2 separate regions of the Homo sapiens genome follow, and region 2 is linked to region 1. The links come from fine-mapping of genetic effects on gene expression. A gene starts in region 1. The other region holds a variant in brackets. All regions are shown on one strand. Distances are between the middles of the regions. Region 1 holds the start of TMEM132B (transmembrane protein 132B). Region 2 overlaps TMEM132B (transmembrane protein 132B).

The links.
Region 2: its variant is fine-mapped to the expression of TMEM132B in atrial appendage (GTEx, PIP above 0.99).

The regions. Positions count from the first base shown.
Region 1 is chr12:125,182,146-125,190,484 of GRCh38, forward strand. TMEM132B (transmembrane protein 132B) reads left to right here and starts at 4,241. Exons shown (of 9, transcript NM_001366854.1): 1 at 4,241-4,721. The coding sequence starts at 4,655. RefSeq lists an enhancer at 3,442-3,975 and a silencer at 4,024-4,233.
Region 2 is chr12:125,363,112-125,371,450 of GRCh38, forward strand. The region is part of intron 2 of TMEM132B (transmembrane protein 132B); the gene reads left to right. Among named protein-coding and RNA genes, the nearest start is that of TMEM132B, 180 kb to the left of the region's middle. The variant A/G (reference allele first, on the strand shown) is at 3,193.

The sequences.
Region 1 (8,339 bases):
TGCTAAGGGTGGAAGGGAGGGGAGAATGGGGAGTGATTGGGTACCAGGTTTCTGGTTGGGTGATGAAAAAGTTCTGGAACTGGAGAGTGGTGATGGTTGCATAGCACTGCGAATGTACTAAGTGCCACTGAATTGTACACTTTAAAGTGATTAAAATGGTAAATTTCATGTTATGTGCATTTTACCACCATTAAAAACCAACACACGTGCAAACTGCTTCGAGCAGTGTCTGGTATGTATTCAATGATGCATCATTATTTATTATTATCATTATTATTTGTTATTAGTCTTGTTCTGCTCTAGCACACTTTACACTTGCTCCAAAATCCCATCCCGATGGTGCCTTCACCCCTGGCTGCCACCTCACACCCTTCCCAGCCCCTGCCGGTCCAGGAATCATTTTATCCTGGGAAGCCAGGGGTCAGAGCTCTTCAAGGTGCTTTCTGCTCAAACACACCAGAAAGCCATTTCTCCCCTGTGGCCTCCTCCCAGTTGGGAGTGGACCTGGAAGGGAAGTCAAGTCCTTCCTGGTCTGAGTGTTCATGGGCTCACATCCCAGGGCTCAGTGCTTACTGTACTGTCCAGCCCTGAGCTCCTTTCATTCATACATTAATATAACCAGGACTGATTGGGCCACTCTCTGTACATATGATGCTGGGTGGTAGCCACTGTTACGAAGAAGAACAAAGCAGGGGAGGGGACAGAGAGTGATATGGATGACTGCAAGTTGCCATAAAGAGGCTCCTTCCTTCCATCATGGGTCCATATGTCCAGGTGTGCAAGTAACTGATTTCTTGAAATTCTTTATTCTTAGTAAATCCTTGATTACCTGTATAAGTGAGCTTGGCTTCTATTTTGAGAGGCCCCTTTCCCCTACCACTCACCTGTGGTGCAAATGCAATCTAAGTCAATTCTGTGTTCCCTGAACATGCCAGAAACATCGATGTGTGCAATGGACAACAAACAGTCCCAGGCTTTGCAAAGAATTTCAACGGGTGGTCACCACGGCAGCAGCTGCCTGCGTGTTGGCGTTCAAGGGCAAAGGGGTCTGTTATTGCCGCTGCCAGTTGGCTGAGGTGGGGAAACCTCTCTGCCTATTCGCCTCCATCTCACCCCTACCCGCACCCCCACCCTGACCTTCCTTCTGCAGCGCCCTCCAGACCTGCAGTTCCAGTTTCAGCCACGAGATGGCAATGTTGCTCTTCGCCGGTAGCCCGGCGGGCGCGTGGGCTGAGCTGCAGCAGAACTGGGGTGCGGGGACGGACCGGGAGCAATCCGTGCTGGAGGCAGTCTCTTGCTGTGCAGGGGGTGGTGCGGCCTGAGGAAGCCTTGCATGGCTATGCTGGGGCTCGAGGCTGGCTGTTAGTCGAGTCGGCCTCCCCACACTTACAGATCCAGGAGAAGGACAATTCCTGGACTCAGTATCCCATCTATACTTAGGGGGAGATTGTAGGCTGTGTAATTCTTACGGTCCTGCCCAGGCTATGAGGCCAGCAGGCTGGGGGCGAGAGTCTAGGTAGGAGTGAGAGGAGAATTCCGCTCAGCCCTGGGGTCTCCTCGTTACTGCCGCCAGCCTCTCAGATTCCCCCCCGCCCTTCAGAATCCAGGGAGGCTTTTTTCCCCTGCTTATTTCCTCCAGAAACACCCCCTTTAGAGATACAGGCTTAGGGGCATGGTTAATATGCAGAAATCCTCATCCAACCACAAGACAGGCTGAGCCAGGCTGGAATTCTCATCCCTACCCCACGTATGAGCTCAGAGAGGATTAGGGGCTTGTCCAGAGTCACACAGCTGGGGCATGGAAAAGCTACCCTCAAAAGGAGATTCCTCTCTTCAGCGTCTGGCTCAACCACCATCAGCATATTTTAATGGGGAAGTGCCCTTCCCCACTGAAAGGTGCTTTCTTGGAGTATGACCAGGTAGTCCTGAGTGTGGGGTTGGGGGGAAGGCAACTGCCATCTGCCATCACACCTGGGACTGTGTGACCACTGGCTTGGGGACTTGCTGGACTGATTCACAACCCTCTCCAAGCACCGCCACTAAAGCCACAGAATGACCCCTTACCCTGCCAGAAAATGACTTTTATCTTTGGCCACAGTCTCCCAGCCTCACTGACCTGCTTCCTGGTCAAACACACGGTTCACCTTGGCACCAGCACCCCGCGGTCACTCCTGCTGTGGCTCTCCCCTGCTGTCGTCCATTCATTTCTGCTTCACCATCCCCTGCAGAGGCCGGCACACAGTAGGTGCTCAGCTCTGCAGATGCTTATGAACAAGTGAACAGGAAAGAGGTGTTGGGGGCAGCCGGGCACAGAGGACCCTAAGAGAGTCCTGACCACGTCTCCAGGATCATCCTCTTATCTGGGGAAAGGGTCACAGAAAGGGGACAGATGGGCCCCTCGCAAGGCCACCCTAAGCCCGAGGAGACCCCCAATCCCGTCGTCCAGCCTGTTGTATGGCTCTCCACACATTGCAGGCCTTGCCAGGGAGCCCAAAGGGGGCTTGGCCTGGGCATGGGCCCCTTGTAAAGGAAGCCGATTAACAGCCACGGGAAAATCCCTTTACGTCTCCTAATTAACCTGGGCTGGAGACTCACCACCTGCCCCTGGCTTTCTTCCTTCTTTTATCTAGGAAGAACTGAGTGCTGCCTCTGCTAATGAGCTTGTCTGTACTAATCAAGCAGGTGCCCTGTCCCCCATCCCCTCTTGGCAGCCGGGAGTGGGGAGGATTGTCCTTCTGATGTGAGCTCTGGGCCCGCAGAGGAAAATCAGATCTATCATAATAATGGCCATGATGATGAGAATGATAATGTTGACACTGACTCCTTTAAATGAGTTCCGACTTCCTAGGTCAGGGGCTTTGTATGTGTTATTGGGGACACCAGGTGATGTGCAATGCCTTCCATCTCTCAGATGAGAAAACTGAGGCTCAGGGAGGAATAAGGGACTCGCCCCAGCTTGCACAGCTAAGGAGCGGCAGAGCTGGGATTCTCAGCCAAGACTCCATGACTCCAGAGCCTTCCCCAAATCTGTCTTTTCATCACCCCACGCTGCCTTATTGACCATTTTCAAAGAGTTTGACCCACTTTTTCATGGAAAACTGAGATGGCAGAGCAAGTGGCTGGTGTGGTGGGGGCTGGGGCGGAGCCAGGACTCCAAGCCACCCTCCCAGGTGGGCAACCCCCCATATCCCCTGTCCTCCCAGCGTGGTGGGGAAGCTTGAAGGCATCTGAGCGCTGCTGGAGGCTCCCCCACATGCTCCCAGCATGACTCATTCATTCGGCTTAGCCCCCCGTGGCTTTGCCCTGGTTGGGGGTGGGGCGCCCAGGAGGATCAGTGGTTTCTGGGATAATAGGTACTGGGGCTCCGTGTGACCTGTGACCTCCCTCCGCACTCTGGCTGCGTCCCTGCCCCTGGATGGAAGAATTCGACCACCTAGTACCCGGCCCTGCGCAACACCTCCGCTCCGTCACTGCCTGACCCTGCGCTGGGAACTCATTCCCGGGACCGCCAGGGAATCTGCCCTTCCCAGGAGAACTCCTGGCTGCCTCCGCGTGCTCCTAGGGCCTGCGCGAAATGGGAAGGCGCATCCTCTAGCCTGGGTAAATAAGGGACCCTGCCTCACCCGGGTGGCCATCCCCAGGCCGCCTTCGCTGTGTTTCAGGTCACCGCACCCAGCCTGCGCACCCCTAGCCCCCATCCCGGTGCCGTGCAGAGGCTCTGCACACAGCCTCGGCCTCCCGGAGGCCCTCCCCTCTCTCCTCTCCCCTCTCCCACAGGCACTCCCTAGCTGTGCCACATTTAACCCGGGACCTCCTGTCCGCGCTCAGTCTTGCAGTCTCTGGCCCCGGCAGACACCACCTCTCCAGAGGTCGCTGCCCCATCCCGGTGACCCTCCGCTGGCCTCCTCACCCCTCGACCTTGGCAACTCCTACCGCTGCGCCCCAAGACGCCGGATCTAGCTGGGCATCCCCTCTCTGCATTGCGCACCCCTCCCGCAGCCCCTGTACCCGCGAGCGCCCGCGACCCCCGGCGGGCTCCCGGAGCCTCCCGGCCGGGCGCCCTCCCCCGAACCGCCGAGCAGTGGCGCGTCCCGCCGCCTACTGGCCGGGCTGCCGCCTGTGCCCCGGCTCCCGGGCGGCCCCTCCCCCGGCCGCGGCCCCGCCCTCCGCTCCTCTCCTCCTCCTCCTCCTCCTACTCCTCCTCCTCCTCCTCCTCCCCCCGGCGCTCGCTCGCTCGCTCACTCTCTCGCTGGCTCGAGGGGCGGCCGGCAGATGGCGATGGCAGAGGCGGCGGCGGCGGCGGCGGCGCGACCGGGATGGGACGGGCGCTGGGGCGCAGGAGCCGCGGCGGCGGCGGCGGCGGGGGCCGCGCAACTCGGGCCAACTGCGGGGCAGCCGGCCAGGGCGCGGGGCGCTGAGCCTCGGCCGCCCCAGCTCCCCAGCCACGCACGGCCGAGCCCAGGAGAGCGCGCAGAGGCGCAGCCGAGGAAGCGCCGCCAGCGCCGGCGCATGCGTCTGGGGAGGAGCGGCGCGCTGGGAGCGAGCCATGCCCGGCGCCCGGGCGTAGCCGCCGGGGGCTGCTCCGGGAGCCGCGGGCCGGGCCGGGCGCGCGAGAGGAGCAGCCCCGCGCCGCACCCACCGCGCGCCGAGGACCATGCCGCCCCCGGGCCGGGCGCCGCCGCTCGGGCTCCTGCTGGCGCTGACTGCGCTCCAGTGCCCAGGTAACGCGTCCCCGGACCCCATCCCCGACCCCGGCCGAGGCGCACAAAGTTGGGTGAACGGGCGGCTACCTCCTTCTCAAGTCCCTGGCAGCGCGCATCTCCCGGACTTGGACAGACCTGGGGAGACCCTGGGAACCCAGGAGCCCCCGGCGCGTTCCCCTTTGCCTAGCGCCTGGGGAGAGCCCGCCTGCCTTCTCCCCCAAACCCTTAGCTTCCTTGCGGATCCTTTCGGGACGCACGGGGGCCACAGACCGGGGCACTCAGCCTCTCGAGGCGGGTGGGGACGCGACTGCAGGAATCGAGCCCCCTCCCCGCCCTGCCTTGGGCCAAATCCCCCCCAGGTCCCAGTTCCTCCAGGGGTTTTGCTGGGCGGGGGCGTCGACGCAGCCCTTCTCCAGTGTCTTGCTGCCCGCGGTCGCACAGTGGTGCGTTCCCGGGACACCTGCGGGCCCCGGAGATGTCTCGGCCGGCGCTGTCTGGCTTGTCCGCAGCCCCTCCCCACGCCCCGCGGCCCTCCCCTGCTTTCACACTGCCCTCCCCAAGCTACCCACCCTCGCCAAATGGCCTCCTCTTGGCCAAAGAGCAGCCCGCTGCGCGCCTCCTGCAAACGCGGTCTACTCCAGCGCCCTGACCCCAAGGCGGGCGGGAGAGGGTAGCCGCGGCCAAGCAGTCCAGGACGCGCCGGGGAGCCTGGAACGCGGTGCTGTCCAGAGCCATTGCCTGGGCACCGGGGAGCTGGACTCCCTGCTGAACCAGCTCAGCTGTCGCCCAATCCTAGTGAGTGGGAAAAGCAAAATAGTCAGGTATTGTCTGTCTTCGCTGGAGTTTGGAAAGCTTTCTACCCACCTTGGTGTGGCTACATGTTGGTTCTATAGAAAGCGTATCCTAAAATGACAATTCCTCCCCTCCCCCCACCCCATGCAAGCAGTGGAGAAAATCCTAAAGGCTCAGATGAACCCCGGGAACAGTCACGAGCAGCCTTCATGTGCTTTTGAAATCTCAGTTCTCCAAACCTTTTAAAATCAAGACCCATGATTTGGGAACAGGTAGCTTTTGCTTTAGAAAATCTCTCCCCATTTCCTTAACAAACAAATCGCACAGACAGGCAGAATGCAGTAGAAAAATACAACTATAACTTTTCGGCTTTCACTGTCTTGGTAAGGTTGCAGTTAGGAGCAAACCTGGCATGTCAACTTGATGTTCGATGTATTTTATTTGCATGGAAAAAGTCAGTGTCGGCTTCCTTTGAGATGCCCTTAAGTGACCCAAAATATTTACCAACACCTTCGACTTGAAGAAAACCTTCTATTGGAGATCTCCGTCAGCGTTCGGCTTTGGTTCAGCCTAGAGAATGGCATTGGGCTTAACGTGGATGAATCTTGCCTGCTTGGCTAAGGAGCAGCTATGATAGCTGTTTTGCTTTCGGCATTCCTCTGCGGTCCACGAGAGGGGCTGCTGCTGGGGCCGAGGCTGTTTTCTCTTAGCTGAAGCCCTGGGACCTGTTTGCAAAAGTGCAGTCCCTCGGACTTGAAAATTGCAGTTTTGTCTCTATTTTGTTTCTCCACGGGGGTCAGCATTTGCCTGGATGTGCTTATAAGTGAATATCGGAAGTCTCTCAGAGAAGCTGCCTGCATAATGCTTTGTAAGAGAATAGGATGGTCCCCCTACCACCCCCCCACCCCCGTCCCCCGCCCTCTCCCCCAGCAACAGAAGAGCCTGTGCCTGGCTCTGGAAGGCCCCATGTTGGGAGGGAAGGTGAGCTCCCACTGAAACCTGCTGCTGGCCGGCTCTTTGCCTGCTCCCCTGCTGTTCTTTGGGAGAGTCTCAGCAGGGCAGCTCGTTCCGACAAATGCCGTCCGGGCAGAGCCCCCAGTGCCATCGCCCCGTCCCTGGAAGCACATGCAAGTCTTTAACTGGTCCCTACCAGGGACATAAAGAGACGACAGTTTGATAACTCTATATTTAGCACTAGTTAGGAGGGATGGCAAAAAAAAAAAAAAAAAAAAAGAAAAAAAGAAATTCCTGAAAGATACTTAGCTGCCTACACTTGGTTTTGAGAGGTTCAGAGGAATTAACCAGAGCTTCCTTCAGGGCTGGTTGGATTTTCTGGGTGATTTCTGCCATGGTTTACCGACCCCCTTTGGCTGAGGCTCTGGAAGAGGGGCTGGAAGAGTTCAGAGGCAAAGATGCGCACACTGTCTCCCATCACACACACGCAGGGACTGGCTTCTTTGTCCCCCACCCCCCTTCCTGCGTGGGTAGCTGCCATGGTAAAGAGTAGGGTGGGTGTACTTCTTTCAGCCTTGCAAGTGCTTAAACATATGGAACTGTACTTGGTAAGAGTCAGCACAAATCCCCCAGCTTAGCGACTAGGGGGCCCCTATTATTCGAGCCACTTTTGTACATGCTGTGGCTTTGCAAATTAGCGGTGCAGTTACAGTCCCTGCTGAGGAAAATGAACGAATCTTGCTTCGTTGACTCATTATGCACGGGGGTCTAGGGTCTATGAAATCAGGGTGGGTGGAGCACCCCCACCTGCCCCACGACAGAGGGGCCACATTGAGTGGCAGGGGGGAGCTTTGGCTTTCAGGGCAGAGGCTCTCTTCCTCCTGCCTGGCACCTTGGTGTGGCATGTGGTATATTTCTCATTACAATAGTGATGGGGGGGGTGCCTGTGTGTGGCGCTGCCCTTCAGAGAGGTGGCATTGGGAAGTGGTGGGGAGTGGTATGCAAATGTCGTCGCCTTCTCCAGTGATTTAATGGCTGCACAGTGGAGGTTCCCAGAGTAAATCATTTCATCCCCTCTCCTCCCACCGGATGCAGGGAGTTGGGGAGGCGTGGGGCTTCTGCATGAGCTACTGCACTCAGAGCCAACAATGAGCACGGTGGTTGCCTTGATCCAAGGGAGCAAAAGAAAACCCTCATTTGTTGGCTGGGAGTCTGGGGTGGGGGTGGTCTCTGGGCCGGCAAAGCCCTTTCAGGGGCCTTGTTCCCAGATGCGTCTCCCAGCTCTATGTGGCTGGGTGGCTCCTTTCTTCTCTTCTGTGTCTCAATTTGAATGGGGATGGAGGGGGTCCATTTCCCCTGAAGCCATGGGACTCAGCAATCACTGTGGCGAGATGGAGGCACCCTGGTACCGTGGGTGACGGGGGTGCTGCCAACTCTTCAGCAGAGTAGGTGGGTTGACTTCTAGAGCAAGAGGGTGCCTCAGAGCCCCTCCTTCAGCAGCCCCCGGCAGATGGGAAGGAGACTTGGGCACAGGGACCGCCTGTTCAGGGTCACACAGTGAATTGGAGGCCTGGGCTCCCCTCTCCTTAACTCCTCACCTATGACTTTCTAACCCTGTACCTGGGAGCTCTTCTGGTAGAGGAGTTCTACCATACAGTCCTTTAGGGAACTGTGACTCCATACAAGGATCCCAAGGTCATGAGAATGACAGCCGCCTGGCCTGGCCAAGACAGCCAGTGTCAAATCCGAAAGTTAGAGAGCAAGTCTTAGTGGTGATGGTGATGGGAAAGGGGTGGTGATGGGGATGGGAAAGGGGTGGTGATGGGAAGAGGTGGTGATGGTGATGGGAAGGGGTGGTGATGGGGATGGGAAAGGGGTGGTGGTGGGAAG
Region 2 (8,339 bases), 180 kb after region 1:
CAGAGCTTGGAGCCTGGAGCCAGTTTGCTGGCTCAAATCCTAACTTTACCATCTATAAAGTACCAGTTTTAAACTTAAGTGTAAATAAAGTTAAAAAATGAAGGCTCAATTGAACAAGGGTCCCCAGAGTTGCCAGCCCCAGGATGTTTCACCATCCCTTACTGATCCCCACAACCCTGCCTATACCTCTGTGAATAGTCCCTTCATGAGACCTTCTGAAGCCCTGATGGGTACAGTGGTGTGTTAGCACAGCGGTAAAGAAGGAAGCTGCCTGGATCCAGCCTAAACCACCTTTATGGCTTTGCATGATGTTTCCCAGGCTGAGAGTGAAGGTCTAGGGGCAAGCAGTGTGGGGTCTGCCTCCCCGTTGGAAATTTAACCCTATGAGATAGAGCTGGCAGTTTTCAGTGCCTAGTAGTGTTTTTTGGGCCTGAGTGAAATAGGGTTGGTGGCACCCCTAGGACTTTCTATTCCTTGTGTTTCAGACTCAGAATATTGAGTGTGTGTGTGGCAGGCACTTTGCTATGTGCTTTTTATCCATCCGTCTTATGTACTTCTTTTCAATGATCTTCAGAGGTAGCAGAATGAGCATCCTTACCTGTTACATGAGGAAACTGAGGCTTAGAAAGATAAGTGACTTCCTCAAATCCACAAAACCAAGAAGCTAGGGTTTGGACTCAGGTCTTCCCATGCCCAGAATCTGAGCATCTCACTACTATGCTAGGCTCAGAGAGGCCACATCTTGAGATGGTTTAATAGAAATATTCATTAGAGGAAAGTGGATAAATGAATAGCTACATATTTATACGGATGAATGCTCTACAGATATGAAAATAAATTCATGTCTCCATTCTTGGATAAATCCCCAAGATTTGAGGCTAAGTGGAAGAACAAAGCAAATTATTAGCTTATATCTACAGTAGCATACAGTTTAAAACGTGCAATATATTCATAATTCTATTTGTTGTATATAAACACATTCCTGTTTGGTCATGCATATATGTGGACATCATAAACACCAATCAAGGGACTGGTTATCTCTGGGGAAGAACAAAGGTTGAAGGGTGTCTAGGGAACTTCAACTGTATCTGCATGTTTTATCTGTTAATCTAGTTGGTGGGAGACATGGGTTTTCATTTTATTCCTCTCCATACTCTTTTACATATTGGAAATATTTTATATTTTCCCATATTTTATTTTGAAAAATTTTAAACATGACAAAGTTAAAAGAAATGTATTGTGAGAATCCATATACCCACCACTTAGATTCTACCATTAATATTTTACTGTTCTTACTTTACTACATATCTATCAATCTATCTCTTCATCCATCAATCCATCTTATTTTCTGATGTGTTTAAAAGTAGTTTGCAGACATTTGTTCACTTCCTTATAAATAGCTTAGTATGTACATTATTAGCTAGGATTTGATATTTATGTGATTTTGACTGGAATTACATTGACTATAGAGATCAATTTATGGAGAATTACCATTGTAACAATGTTGGGTCTTCCGATATAAGAACATGGTATATTTCCTCATTTATTTATATCTCCTTTGATTATCTTCAGCTATGCTTTGTAGTTTTCATTGTACAGATCTTGCACATCCCTTGTTAACTTTATTTCTTAGTATTTTATATTTTAATATTATAAATTGACTTGATTTTATTTTCATTTTAAGATGTTTTGTTGATAGGATATAGCAATACAGTTGATTTTTTTGTGTGTACTGAGGTTGTATCCTGTAACCTTGCCAAATTCACTTATCTGTATCTTTATACTTAAAATGTGCCTCTTGTAGATAGCATACACTTGTGTCTTGTATTTTTTATCTGTTTTGATAATCTGTATTTTAATTAGTATGCTTATTTCATTAATATTTAATATGTAATTTCATTAATGTGCTAGTCTATTAATATTTAATGTAATTACTAATGTTACCAGATTTGGGGTTACCACTTTATTATTTGGTTTCTCTTTTTCTTTTTGTTTGGTATTCCTCTGTTCTTCTTTTCCTGCTTTTTTTTTGGGCATTATTTGCATACTTTTAAGAATTCTAGTTTAACTTTTATATAGGCTTTTTAGCTGCACTTTCTTGCATTATATTTTTAGTAGTTGCTTCAGAAATTACCATATACATGCTTAACTTTTCACAGTCTATTTTGAGATAGACTTTCCATAAAATGTAGATAGTAGGTCCACTTAACCATCCCATGTCCTTTATGTTAATGTTACTTTGTATAATTACATAGATATATGTTAAAAACCCTCGAAGAGAATATTATAACTTTTACTTTAAATAGTTATATGTATTATAAAGACATTAGGAAGAAAAAGCAATAGTAGCCTTTTGCATTTATCCAGATTTTGCCATTTCTGATGTTCTTCATTCCTTTCTGGGGATCTAAGTTTTCATTTGTTGTTATTTCCCTTCAGCATGTATGACTTCTCTTGGCAATTTTTTGAAGTACATATTTACTGGCAATAAATTCCTTTAGTCTCTTTTATCTGAAAATCCTTTATTTCATTTTTATTCCAGAAGATTTTTTTTTGCTATTTGTAGAGTTCTGAGTTGGCAGTTTTTTTCTTTCAGCATTTTAAAGATATTGTTCTACTTGATTTAAAAATTATATTATAGTTGTACATATTTTTGGGCAGATGTGATATTTTGATACATGTATAAAATGTGTAATTATCAAATCAGGGTAATTGGCATATCCATCACCTCAAACATTTTTCTTTGTGTTGGGAACATTAGAATTCTTCTCTTCTAGCTATTTGGAAATATATAATAAATTATTGTTAACTATAATTTCCCTACTCTACTATTGAATACTAAAACTATTTCCTTCCATCTACTGTATTTTTGTATCCGTTAATCAACTTCTCATCCCTCTCCTTCCCACTTCCCTTCCCAGCCTCTGGGAACCTTCATTCTACTCTCTACCTCCAAGAGGCCCACTTTCTTTTTTTTTAAGCTGTCATATGTTAGTGAGAACATGTGATATTTGTCTTTCTGTGCCTGGCTTATTTAACACTTAACATAATGGCTTCCAGTTCCACCCACATTGCTGCAAATGACAGGATTTGATTCTTTTTATGGCTGAATAATATTGCTGTGTGTGTGTGTGTACACAGCACATTTTCTTTATTCGTTCATCCATTGATGGACACTTAGGTTGATTCCAT[A/G]TTGTGGCTACTGTGAATAGTGCTGCAGTAAACGCAGGAGTGCAGATATCTCTTTGATATGATGATTACCCACCAACAATGTAGGAGTGTTCCTCTTTCTCAGCATCCTCACCAGCATTTGTTATTTTTTTTATTGTCTTTTTGATAGTGCCATTTTAACTGGGGTGAGATGGTGAGATGTTTTGATTCACTTGCTTTTGACCTCCATAATTTCTGATAAGAAGTCAGCCATTAATGAATCAGTCACCTGTAGGTGATGTGTTGCTGTTCTTTTGCTGCTTTTAAGATTTGCTCATCATCTTTGCCTTTCAACGGTTTAGCTACAATGTGCAGAGGTATGGACTTTTAAATGTTTATCCTGCCTTGGGTTTGTTGTGTAGTTAAATTTGTACATTTATGTCTTTTATCAAATTTGGGAGAGTTTCAGTCATTATTTATTAAAATATTCATTTCTGCCTCATTTCCTTACTCCTCTGCATCTGGAATGTCAATTACACATATACTAGACTATCTATTATTATCTAACAGGCCTCTGAGTCTCTGTTCATTTTCTTCAGTCTTTTTTCTCACTCATTTTACATTGAATAATTCCATTGATTTATCTTCAAATTCATTGATTCTTTCTCCTGTCATCTTTATTTGGGTATTAAGTCCACCAGTGCAATTTTACTTTTAGCTATTGTAGTTTTCGATCTAGACTTTCCATTTTGTTCTTTTATTGTCATTTTTATTTGTTTGCTGAGTTTTCATGGCTTTTTATTCATTAAGAGCGTATTTTCTTTTACATCACTGATGACAGTTGTAATTAGCAACTTTAAAATGCTCTTCTGGTAATTCTAACATCTGGGTCATCCTCAGGTTGGTTTCAGTTGATTGTCTTTTCACTCTGGAATGGGTCTCATTTTTAAAAATCTTCATATTTTGGACAATTTTTTATTGTATCTTGAATATTATGAATGCTAAGTTGTGAAGACTCTGGATTCTTATTTTTGATTTTCCAGTAAGTGTTGTTTCTTTTGTTTCAGCAGGCAATTAATTTTGTTGTAGTCAAACTGCAGATCTCTTTCTTGGATCATAAGTACAATCTCAGTATGGATCTTTTATCTTTAGCTGACATGCTTTGAGACTGATCTGCATATACAAGATTCAATATTCAACCAGAGATATTGACAGGTAGAATTTGAGCATTCTCTCTTTCTCTTCCATGACTCTCTCATCTCTCTTTAGCTGCCATCTTGGACTCAGTCCTGTGGTTCCCTACCTCCCAATCCCAACTGCATTTTTTTCCAGGTTGATGCTCTCTCTGCATCCTACAATAATAACTGCATTATTCTCCAGGCTAAATGTGACAAAAATGGGGGAAATTCTTCCTCAGAGTGGGTCTTCCTCTGAGTATGGACTCCCCTCCATGATCTTCCTGTTTTTGTTTACTCTCTAGTGCCTTTGGATAGCTACTTTAAAAATTATGTCTAGAGTTTACGTAGGACCAACTCTAGTATCTCACTCAACCATTACCAGAAATAGATTTAGTTCATTTATATTTAATGTAATTATTGATGTGGTTGGAATTAGGTCTGCTATTTTTTATTTTTCTCATCTTAGTTTTTTTCTTTATTCCTTCTTTCTTGATTAATCTATTGTGTTATCAAATATTAGTATTTGATTTTAATTAATCTATTGGCTTTTTAGCTATATCTCTTTGCATGTTTAAGTGATTGCTCTAGGGATCATAGTATATATCTTTAAATTTATCATCATCTAATTAGAGTTGACATGTTATTTCTCTAGGTAAGTATAGTTACTTTACCACAGTATAGTCCATTCTCCACATCTTTGTGCTATTTTCATATATTTGATATCTATATATGTTTTGTTTTGGCACTTTTAAGATGACAGATATTTTGTAGATGGTCTCTTAATTTGGGTTTGTCTGCTGTCTCCTCATGATTAGATTCAGGTTATGCATCTGTTGCATTAATGCCACAGAAATGATACTGTGTTCTTGTTGCATCCTATGAGGTTGTGCATAATTTTAATTTGTCTCATTACTGTTGAGGTTCACTTTAATTACATAATTAAGGTGGTATCTGCCAGTAGTTTCAACTGTGAAGTTACTGCTTTTCTCTTTGCCGTTAATAAGAATTTTGTGGGGTGTCACTATGTGATATTATGTACACATTCCACCCCTCATCAAATTTTTATTTATTCATTGTTTAATTTACATTTGTATGGAGTCATGATTTCCTTTTTTGCATGGATTTGCCCAGTGGGAGGCAGCAGTGGAAGACTAGGATGGGAAAAGGTAGAGAAAGTAGAGAACTTCCCTCTTGCTCTGCTTCCTGATATGTCTCTGTCAGAGGCTGCGTATCCTCCATAGCTTTGTTCCTATAGGACACATGCTCCTCAGGAATAGACCCTGCCAGGAATTTAGCTCCCACTGGATGGTCCTAGTTCCTGGGCTTTTAGGTAACAACATCTCTTCCCTGTGTCTTGCTTGGAAATACAATTTTTTTTTACATTCAATTTGTTCCATGACAGGAATAAAACATGTGAGGTGTTGTTCCTGTCATGATTTTTTTAAATTATACTTTAAGTTCTATGGTACATGTGCACAACGTGCAGGTTTGTTACATATGTATACATGTGCCATGTTGGTGTGCTGCACTCATTAACTCGTCATTTACATTAGGTATATCTCCTAATGCTATCCCTCCCCCCTCCCCCGGCCCCATGACAGGCCCCGGTGTGTGATGTTCCCCACCCTGTGTCCAGGTGTTCTCATTGTTCAATTCCCACCTATGAGTGAGAACATGTGGTGTTTGGTTTTCTGTACTTGCGATAGTTTGCTGAGAGTGATGGTTTCCAGCTTCATCCGTGTCCCTACAAAGGACATGAACTCATCCTTTTTTATGGCTGCATAGTATTCCATGGTGTACATGTGCCACATTTTCTTAATCTAGTCTATCACTGATGAACATTTGGGTTGGTTCCAAGTTTTTCCTATTGTGAATAGTGCTGCAGTAAACATACATGTGCATTTGTCTTTATAGCAGCATGATTTATAATCCTTTGGGTATATACCCAGTAATGGGATGGCTGGGTCAAATGGTAGGAAATACAAATTTAGGTGTGTTTGGCAGTTTGATAATAATAACTGAAGCCTTGGAAAGGATGAGATTTTTTTCAGTAAAAATCATGAGAAGAAAAAAGAGCTCTTGAATGAATCCTGAAGGACTCCAACATTTGATAGGTTGATAAATGACAAAGATGAGACTTAAAAATGTCAGCCAGAGAAGTGGAGAAACCAAGAGAATATGATATCACACAAGCCAGTGGAAGAGACTGAAAACCACAGAAAGTCAGCAGAGTTGAATCCTGCTGAGAGCTCAAGCAGGGGAAATGAAAATTATTCCTTGCATTTTTACCTATGGAGGTCATTGGTAACTTTAATAAGATATTTAATGGGCCGGGCGTGGTGGCTTATGCCAGTAATCCCAGCACTTTGGAAGGCGGAGGTGGCGGATCACCTGAGGTCAGGAGTTCGAGACCAGCCTGGCCAACATGGTGAAACCCTGTCTCTACTAAAAATACAAAAATCAGCCGGGTGTGGTGGTGGGCACCTGTAATCCCAGCTACTCGGGAGTCTGAGGTAGGAAAATCACTTGAACCAGTGAGGAGGAGGTTGCAGCGAGCCAAGATTGTGCCACTGCATTCCAACCTGGGCGACAGAGTGAGACTCCATCTCAAAAATAAAAAAGATATTGAATGAACTCCTGGAAATAAAAGCCAGACTGGAGGGGCTTGGGGATGAGTGATCTGTGAAGTTAATCCCTGTTGTGGCTTAAGATCGGCTGCATGTGGTAGGAACCCCAAAGAACACTGAGGTCACCAAGACAGGCATCTATTTAAGGAAAGGCAGGAATGTCCACAGGTAGGTATTGGTTTGGTGGATCAAGAATGTTAGAGTATCAAGGATTTTATGATTATGTTGTTCTTTCCCTCACTGTCACAAGATAGCCGCTGCAGTTGTAGTCATCACATCTATATTTCACTCAGAAGGGAGAAAGGAGAGAGAGGAGCAAAACATCACGTGCATCCAAGTCTGCCCTTCTTTAAGGAACATTCCTGGAATTGTCAACCAACATCTTTTGACTGTTGCTTAATAGCCAGAACTGTTCTCACAATCAAGGCCATCCTGTAGTGAGGTAGGGAATTGTAGGTATTTAACTGGGCATCTGGGCAGTCCCTTCTCCCCCCATCAGGGTTTTCCTTCTTTCTTTTTTAAATAGACATGGGGGTCTTGCTCTGTCACCCAGGCTGGTCTCTAACTTCTGGACTCAAGCAATCCTCCCGCGTCAGCCTCCCAAAGTGCTGGGATTATAGGCATGAGCTACCGCATCCGGCCAATTTCAGGGTTTTCTTGATAGGGAAGAAATGGGTAATGGATATTGGGTGAGTAATTAGCATTGTCTGACACATGTGAGTTGATGGAAACAGGAAAGGCAATGTCTTTCTACGTTGTTCCAATGTTTGACTGGTGTATTAGGGTTCTCTAGAGGGACAGAACTAATAGGATATATGGATATATGACAGGGAGTTTATGAAGGAGGATTGACTTGCAGATAGGCCATCTGCAAGCTGAGGAGCAAGGAAGCCAGTAGTGGCTTATTCTGAGTCCCAAAGCCTCAAAAGTAGGGAAGCTGATGGTGCAGCCTTCAGTCTGTGGCCAGAGGCCTGAGAGCTCCTGGGAAGTCACTGGTGTAAGTCCAAGAGTCCAAAAGCCAAAAATCCTGGAGTCTGATGTTCGAGGGTAGGAAGCATCCAGCACAGGAGACAGATGAAGGCCAGAAGCCTCAGCAAGTCAGCTCCTTCTACCTTCTGCATGCTTTCTCTAGCCACACTGGCAGCTGATTGGATGGTGACCACCCACATTGAGGGTGGGTCTTTCTGAGTCCATTGACTCTGACTCAAATGTTAATCTCTTCTAGCAACACCCAGAAACACCCAGATAGATGCAGAGACAATCCTTCAATCAAGTTGACGCTTAATATTAATCATCACAGCTGGGAAGAGACAGGGAGGAAGGAGGGCATCCGAGGGACCCGGGGTGTCAGGGGATTCTTTTCCCTAAAGCTGAGAGAAGCTTG